2 separate regions of the Homo sapiens genome follow, and region 2 is reported to be linked to region 1. Evidence: microRNA targets listed by miRTarBase, many of them from high-throughput screens and not tested one by one. Region 1 holds a microRNA gene; the other region holds the end of a gene's coding sequence.
Evidence for each region. Region 1 holds the annotated microRNA hsa-miR-7110-3p (UCUCUCUCCCACUUCCCUGCAG, at 2,140-2,161, shown strand). A microRNA usually pairs through its seed, bases 2 to 8, with sites in the 3' UTR of a target mRNA and lowers its output. Matches are read on the target gene's strand: a 7mer-m8 pairs with bases 2 to 8, a 7mer-A1 pairs with bases 2 to 7 and ends in A, and an 8mer does both.

Region 1 (3,836 bases):
AAAAGTCTCACCGTATAGAATGTTACATAGCTGAAGAGTAGAAGGGAAGCGTGAGGGTGAGGGGGGTGAAGGTGGCACCTGGTGGCCAGGGGAGGCCGCACCTCACTCTTCTCTTCAGCTATCCATCTGGCAGCTCACCTGGGCATGAGGGACATGATGAGTAAACGTGGCCATGGGGGCCCACAGGATTCTCCTACCTGGAAAGGGGCTTTGTCCAAATGCAAATAACCATCAACCAAAGAACTGTGTGAATCATGGTTATTCAATAATTTTAAATTATCTTATTGAATCACCCTCTTTTAATTTCTTCCAAGCATTCATTGAGCTCTATCTAAAATGATCTAATTTGTCATACAGCAGACGCTTGATAACTGGACTTTGTCAAGGTCGACGTTGTCCCCCAGCATCTAGAACAGGCTTGGCACACGGCAGGGTTTCAGTGTGTGTTGCCTGGTAGGAGGACTCATTCTCATGGGAATCTGCCCCATCTTCCATAACACCTCTGTACTGGGTATGGCCATTGAGGACCCCTTCTCGGGCTTCCCTGGTGCATGACCCTCAACCGGAAACAAGTTCCCCATTTCTGCTTTATACTGTCTTCCTTTGAAAAAACAACAAATGATGAGGAAAAGCTACCCAGCATGTGGAATTTGCTAGATGGTCAAGAAGAGGCCAGTGGCCAATGTGGGAACCACTTTCTGACCAAACATTCTGATGGCTTTACTCATGCGGGGCTCCTCCAGTTTCCAGATGTGCTTCCCTGGTCTCCTCCTCTTCCAGTCTTGGCTCAGATGGCGAATCATACAGAGCGCCTTTGCCCCACTCACCTGGCACCTGGACCACCTCCCTCATCCCTCACATCACATCATGTTGGAATTGTCCCTTTATCCAACCCCTGCCCAGACACTGAGCCCCTAAGTGGGGACAGAGCTTGTATATGGGGTTGGAAGAAGTGACTGTAATAGCAGCTGACATTTCCTGACCATGAATCTGGTGCCAGGTTCTGTGCTCACTGGCCTCACTGGAATTCTCTTATTCAGTCTTCACAATATCCTGATAGCCTAGATACTATTATTATCCCCATTTTACAGCTGAAAAAAATGAGGCACCAAGAGGCTGAGTTATTTTCCTTAAGTCTTACTGTCCAGGCAAACCAAGAGTGCACTTGGGGAACTTGACTTGAAAGCTCTTGCCCTTAACCTTGGCACTATACTGTCCCCCCAAGCTAATGTTCCGGAAATATTAGTGGAGAAATGATTAAATCCTACAGTCCCTTACAGATAGCACCACAGAACCTGTGGTGTTTACAAATGCTTTCAAGTCATCATTTCCTTTACGATCATCATACTCTTGATTTTAAAGGACAGTCTAAAGGCACTCCAGGCCGAGTCCCCTAACCTTACCCATCTGGAAATTGAAAACAAGCACCATCAGTCTCCAAGGAGTCCTGAGCTGGGGGTGCTTTGGTTCAGTTCCTACCTGCCACTGAGGAGAAAAATCAGAGTGGGCCTGTGACGTGGACTAGATGTGCAATCTGTGTTGTGGGGTCCAGGCCTCAGCCTGGGGACACCCTGTGCCAACTCTCTTTACCTTGGCTCCTAGATTGCCTGTGCCGCTGTTGACTGTGTCAAAGACAAGAACCAAGACCTGTGCCAGCAGGAGGCGGTCAAGGGCTACCCCACTTTCCACTACTACCACTATGGGAAGTTCGCAGAAAAGTATGACAGCGACCGCACAGTAAGTGGGGGAGAGGCGTCTGCCCAGAGCTCTCTCTCTGCTGATGGGCAGGGAAACTTCCACTGAGGAGGGGCAGCACTGGGCAGCATCCCAGAAACTGCAGAAGTCAGCTGGAACACTGCACCGAGAGGCCCAGGCCCTGGGCCTGGCTGAGGCTTGACATTGTTGGAGGAGAGTCCCAAGGGGTTGCCACAGATGTCCTGTCCCCAGAGGCAGGCTGGACTCCAGATGCCGAGGGTTTTCTCACTTGCTGGTCGGGGCTGGTGCAAGCCACGCAGACCCTCTCCACCTTGCAGAAGTCTGCCCACCTCTCCCTGTCATAGGAGTGACCCCCTGGAGGGGCTGGGGGTGTGGGGAGAGAGAGTGCACAGCCAGCTCAGGGATTAAAGCTCTTTCTCTCTCTCTCTCTCCCACTTCCCTGCAGGAATTGGGATTTACCAATTATATTCGAGCCCTCCGGGAGGGAGACCATGAAAGACTAGGGAAAAAGAAGGAAGAGTTATAATTCCTGCCTCAGAAAAAGCTTTTCCATTACACTGTGAATGATACCTGTTTTGTTGTTTCTGAATTTCCACATGTTCTGAAGACAAATTTTTTATAGCCGCTTATGGCCATTTTGTACAATTTTGAAATAAAATTAAACCATTTATTTGGTGGTATGGTTTATTTTCGTGGAGCCTGTACTAAAAAAGGTGGATACTCACATCCTCCTCATTCCACCACCTCTGCTGGGAGGTACAGAGCAGTGCTCCAGTGCCCCATCTGCATGGAGGTGACTCCTGAGGGTGTCGGCCCCCTGTCAGTCATTTGAGAGCAGAACAGGGAAACTGGACCGCAGAATATCCTGCTGGAAAATGACAAGCTAATGAGAGGAAATACGTCAAGATGATCAATGACTTTGGGAGGCTGAGGTGGGAGGATCACTTGAAGCCAGGTGTTCAAGACCAGCCTGGGAAACATTATGAGACCTCATGTCTACAGAAAATAAAGTTGCTGGGCATAGGGGTACATGCCTATAGTCCCAGCTACTTGTAAGGCTGGGAAGGGAAGATTTCTTGAGCCCAGGAGTTCAAGGCTGCAATGATCTATGATCGCATGACTACTCCAGCCTAGCTAGAAAGCAAGACCTGTCTCAAAAATAGAAAAAGAAAAAGAAAGAAAAAAACAAAAGATGATCAGGGAAATTGGGATGCTGAAGCAAATGGTAACCAAACACTAGCTTCTTCTGGATCATTGCGGTTTCAGCATTGGTGTGTTTCCTCTGTGTGTGTTTTCCTGGAACTTACTTAGGTATTTATCTTTCTCCAGCTATTTGTCTTCTCTTCGTCTCTCCATTCCCTCCCCAATCTCCCTTTAAAGAAAATTAAGTTGCCGCTTCAGGGGCATGAATGGAGTGGGGGAAGGGGGGCTCTGTGCCAGCTGCTTGCTGTGCACCCTGGCTGGAAGGGATGGTGTGTTCTCGAGGTGCAGATATTAGATCTGCTCACCAGCCCCCACCACCAACCATAATAACCCCAAATCTTTACGCCACGTTTTCCATGGATGGGTGCCTTGCTCGGCCTCCTGCCTGTGTACATCTCCTTTTTGACCCACCTTTCTGGTGAGTCCTCCTGCTTTCTGCATTCCTGCGTGACTGACACCCCAGCCCTGTGCCCAGCGGTGCAGGCAGAGCCTGAGCACAGCAGTAACATGTTTTGTCTGCTTGGTGGTATTTCTCCATGGACAGCAGAGTGGCCTTGTGCTAGTATCTTGTCTTTAGTTATAAGTAGCGGTCCTAGAGTTGGATTCCTCCAGTAGTTCAGGGGGGCGTTGCTTAAGCTGCAGTACTTGGAAGCACGCTCTGGTGGCCTTGATGGGGACTTGGCCTGCAGGAACAGCCCTCCTTTCCTGGACCCAGCTCCCTTCCTCCTGGCCTAAGTCCTTCCTGCTGATGAATCTGCTGAGAGGAGGACAGAGCCTCCAAGTTCTTCACAGCTGTTTTGACGATGGTGCCACTGTGGGTGGTTTCATTAAGGGAAATCAAGGTTTTGAGAGCCCTTGTTCTGTGCAGTTCTCCAACTTTCCAATTGACCCTCCTGCCAGTTCAGCTCTTCTCTTTT
Region 2 (3,000 bases), not on the chromosome of region 1:
CACTCTCTACTTCGTCTCCCCCGGGAGTTGTCTACTTTCCTAGGCCCTGCCAGCAGCCCCCACAGCTCCGCCCAGCCCACTCCACCAGCTTGCTGCTCCCATGGCTCAGCCCCACTCACAGCTCACCCCTCCCATGGCTAGGCCCCATCCACAGCTCACCCCTCCCATGACTAGGCCCCGCCCACAGCTCACCTCTCCCGTGACTAGGCCCCGCCCACAGCTCACCTTTCCCATGGCTAGGCCCTGTCCACAGCTCACCCCACCCATAGCTAGCCCCATTCACAGCTCACCTCTCCCATGGCTAGGCCCCACCCACAGCTCGCCCCGCCCACAGCTCACCCCTCCCATGACTAGGCCCCGCCCACAGCTCACCCCTCCCATGGCTCCATGGGCTTCTCTTCCCCTCCTGCCTAAGTCCCCGCAGGGCCAGAACCCCTGGCCCCCAGGCCCTGGGGCCGTGGGCAAGGAGGCCTCTCCGCTTGGTACTGTCTCCATGGAACAAAACCACACTGCAGCGTTCCAGGACCACAGAACAGCCAGGCAGGCTGTACCCAGCAAAGGGGACTGGTGACCAGCACTGGACACTGGGCATCAGCTGAAGACACTGGCTTGAGAATGCATTGCCATTTACCCAGCGAGCTTCAAGATGGATGCTGGCTTTTAAAAGAGCAGCCCAGCTGCACCAGAGGACATGGCGGTTTATGTATGGAACATTGGCCTCCAAGCCTGAGGCAGGAAAGCCCTCTCCATGCCTGTAACCCAAAGCTCTAGGCCACTGGTTCCCAAGAGTGAGCACGTCCCGCAGAAACAGCTTGGTTTAACAAGTGGGAGCAGCTGCCACAAGAGAACGGAGGGTCTCCCCCAGCGAATGTGCAGGTGTCTCACTTTCTCAGGGCTTTCGAGGTGGACTGGCTCCTAGGACCTGAAGCTTTGAGCTGGCAAGCAGGGATGGCTTGGGACAGCGCCCCAGGGAGTGGACCCGGGCGGGTGGGGTGAAGGCAGGGGTCTAAAGAGGGCCTGTGTCAGTTACACAGTCCATCAAGTTACCAGCCAGTTCAGTGGAAAAAAAAATGGACTTGGCAACCCACAGACCAAATAAGGAAAACACGTACACAAGCCAGGCCCCCCGCTGACTCGCTTCCACCCACTGCAGAAACAGAAGCTAAGTGGAGACAGGGGCCAGGCTTCGAACCGCAGGGTGGGGCGGGTCCTGCACTTTGGGTGGCCCCATCCCTGAGTGACTGGGAGAGAACAGGCTGGGCTGGGGACACCTGTGTCCTCCTCCCATAGAGCAGGTGGACATGCAGAGCCTCCTCTCTCCCTTTCACAAGCCACTGTGTTGGGGCCATCGGCCTTCTGACCGCCACAGAGAATGACCCAGGCTCAGCTTAGGTGACTCAGAAGGCCGCCATGCTGCAGAAAAGGCGCCCAGGGGTTAAGCCTGTCCCCGTGGACGGAAGCCTTGGGAGAAGCTGTCAGCTGTGTAAAAAGGGGCTTTCTAACCATTGGGTCTCTCCTGAGACAGCGGCCAGCCCCGGCAGGAGTCCCCACAGGGGTGCTGTGGAAATGCAGACACCAGGCCTGGGCTGTGCAGGGGTCTAGATGCCCCTGAAGGCCCGCCCAGGTCTAAGGCTCTTCCTCTTGACGCCCCAGCAAGGGCTAATCTCACACACAAGCAAGAGATGGGCACTGGACACTGTGCGCTTCCCCCAGGAACTCCCTCCTAGGCCTCTGCAGCTGCTGGCTCCACAGGCTCCGCACGCCCGGCCCAGCCCAGCCCAGCCCAGCCCAGCCCAGCCATGGAGCTTGGGAGTGCAGAGGCCGCACACATGGGGTGACGGGGACTGTCCCAGACACCAGATGCAACACGCCCCACCACGAGCCTATGCTGTCCCTTGGAACGGCGAGCCTGCCTCCTCACCCTCCTCTCCTCCTCTTCCCCGGGTGGCCCCACACAGGCTAAGGCTCCCGCCACCAGCTTGGGAACAGACATCACCCTGCTGTTCTCAGAAGCAAGTGTGATGCTGCTTTTGTAATTGGGAATTTTAAAAAATCTTGGTCTCCACAGTGACAGAATCCAACCAAATTCCTTCCTGGGAAGGGCAGCTCTGGAGGGCAGTGCTCCAGGGGATAGCAAGGGTGACGGGAAAGGACGGTGTGAGCGGGTGGGGCATGGAGTAAGATCATTTGGGGACCTGGGTGTCTTTAGCTCCTCACTGGCTTGGGACAGGCCGTGTTTTGCTGTGGGGATGGGGGAAGCCGGTCTCACACCTTCCTAAGGCACAGCGGGGTGTGTCTGCCTGGCCTGCTGGGCTGAGATCGAGCAAATCCTGGTTGTTGAGGGTGTCACCAGGAAGAGGGGGCATGGTGTCGGCGCTGGTTGCGGATAGCAGCTCCTCACGGTCAAGGTCGTGGGCAGGCGGCAAGGTGCTGTCAGAGAACGTGTCACTACAGGGCTCCCTGGCATCTGCGAGTTCACGGCAGATGTGTCTGTTGGCACTGAAAATCCACCATCCGAGCTGCAGCTGGAGATGAGGGGGATGCGAGCCGCTGGCCCTCCCCAGAGAATAAAGTAAAGGCATTTGGGTCTCCTTCCACAAACAAAAGCACAAAGAGACACGACGCAGATGCTGAGGTGTTAAGTAGGTATCATCGTTCTTCTCCTAACACGATAAATTATCTTTCCAGTCGTGGTTCCTATGTCCTCGGCAGCGCTGCCATCACGGCGTGGAGACAGTGACGGGGACCTAAACTGGAAAGTTCTTCGTGGGCAGAGACGGTGCAATGACAATATCGTCGGAATCATCGGAGTTGACGTCATCCCCAGGTAGAGGTGCCAAGGCCTGTGGCCCTGAGGGAGAGGGGTCTGCAGAAATGAACCACAGGGAGAGGGGTCAGCCACGCTGACCTCAGGGGCTGCCACCACGGACACCCTTACACTGTCTGCTCTTCCCCGGCAGGCAAGACGGCAGCCACCCCGAGAAGCAGTAAGCCATGGGG

Region 2: miRTarBase lists IQCE as a target of hsa-miR-7110-3p. Seed matches in the 3' UTR shown: 7mer-m8 at 1,314-1,320.

Annotation. Positions count from the first base shown.
Region 1 is chr3:123,159,719-123,163,554 of GRCh38, forward strand. It overlaps MIR7110 (microRNA 7110), which reads left to right and starts at 2,076; the gene lies at 2,076-2,161. It overlaps PDIA5 (protein disulfide isomerase family A member 5), which reads left to right. Exons shown (of 17, transcript NM_006810.4): 16 at 1,603-1,737; 17 at 2,162-2,386. The coding sequence ends at 2,242.
Region 2 is chr7:2,609,910-2,612,909 of GRCh38, reverse strand. IQCE (IQ motif containing E) reads right to left here. Exons shown (of 22, transcript NM_152558.5): 22 at 1-2,866. The coding sequence ends at 2,748. Among named protein-coding and RNA genes, the nearest start is that of TTYH3, 21 kb to the left of the region's middle. RefSeq lists enhancers at 1,690-2,263, 2,264-2,837.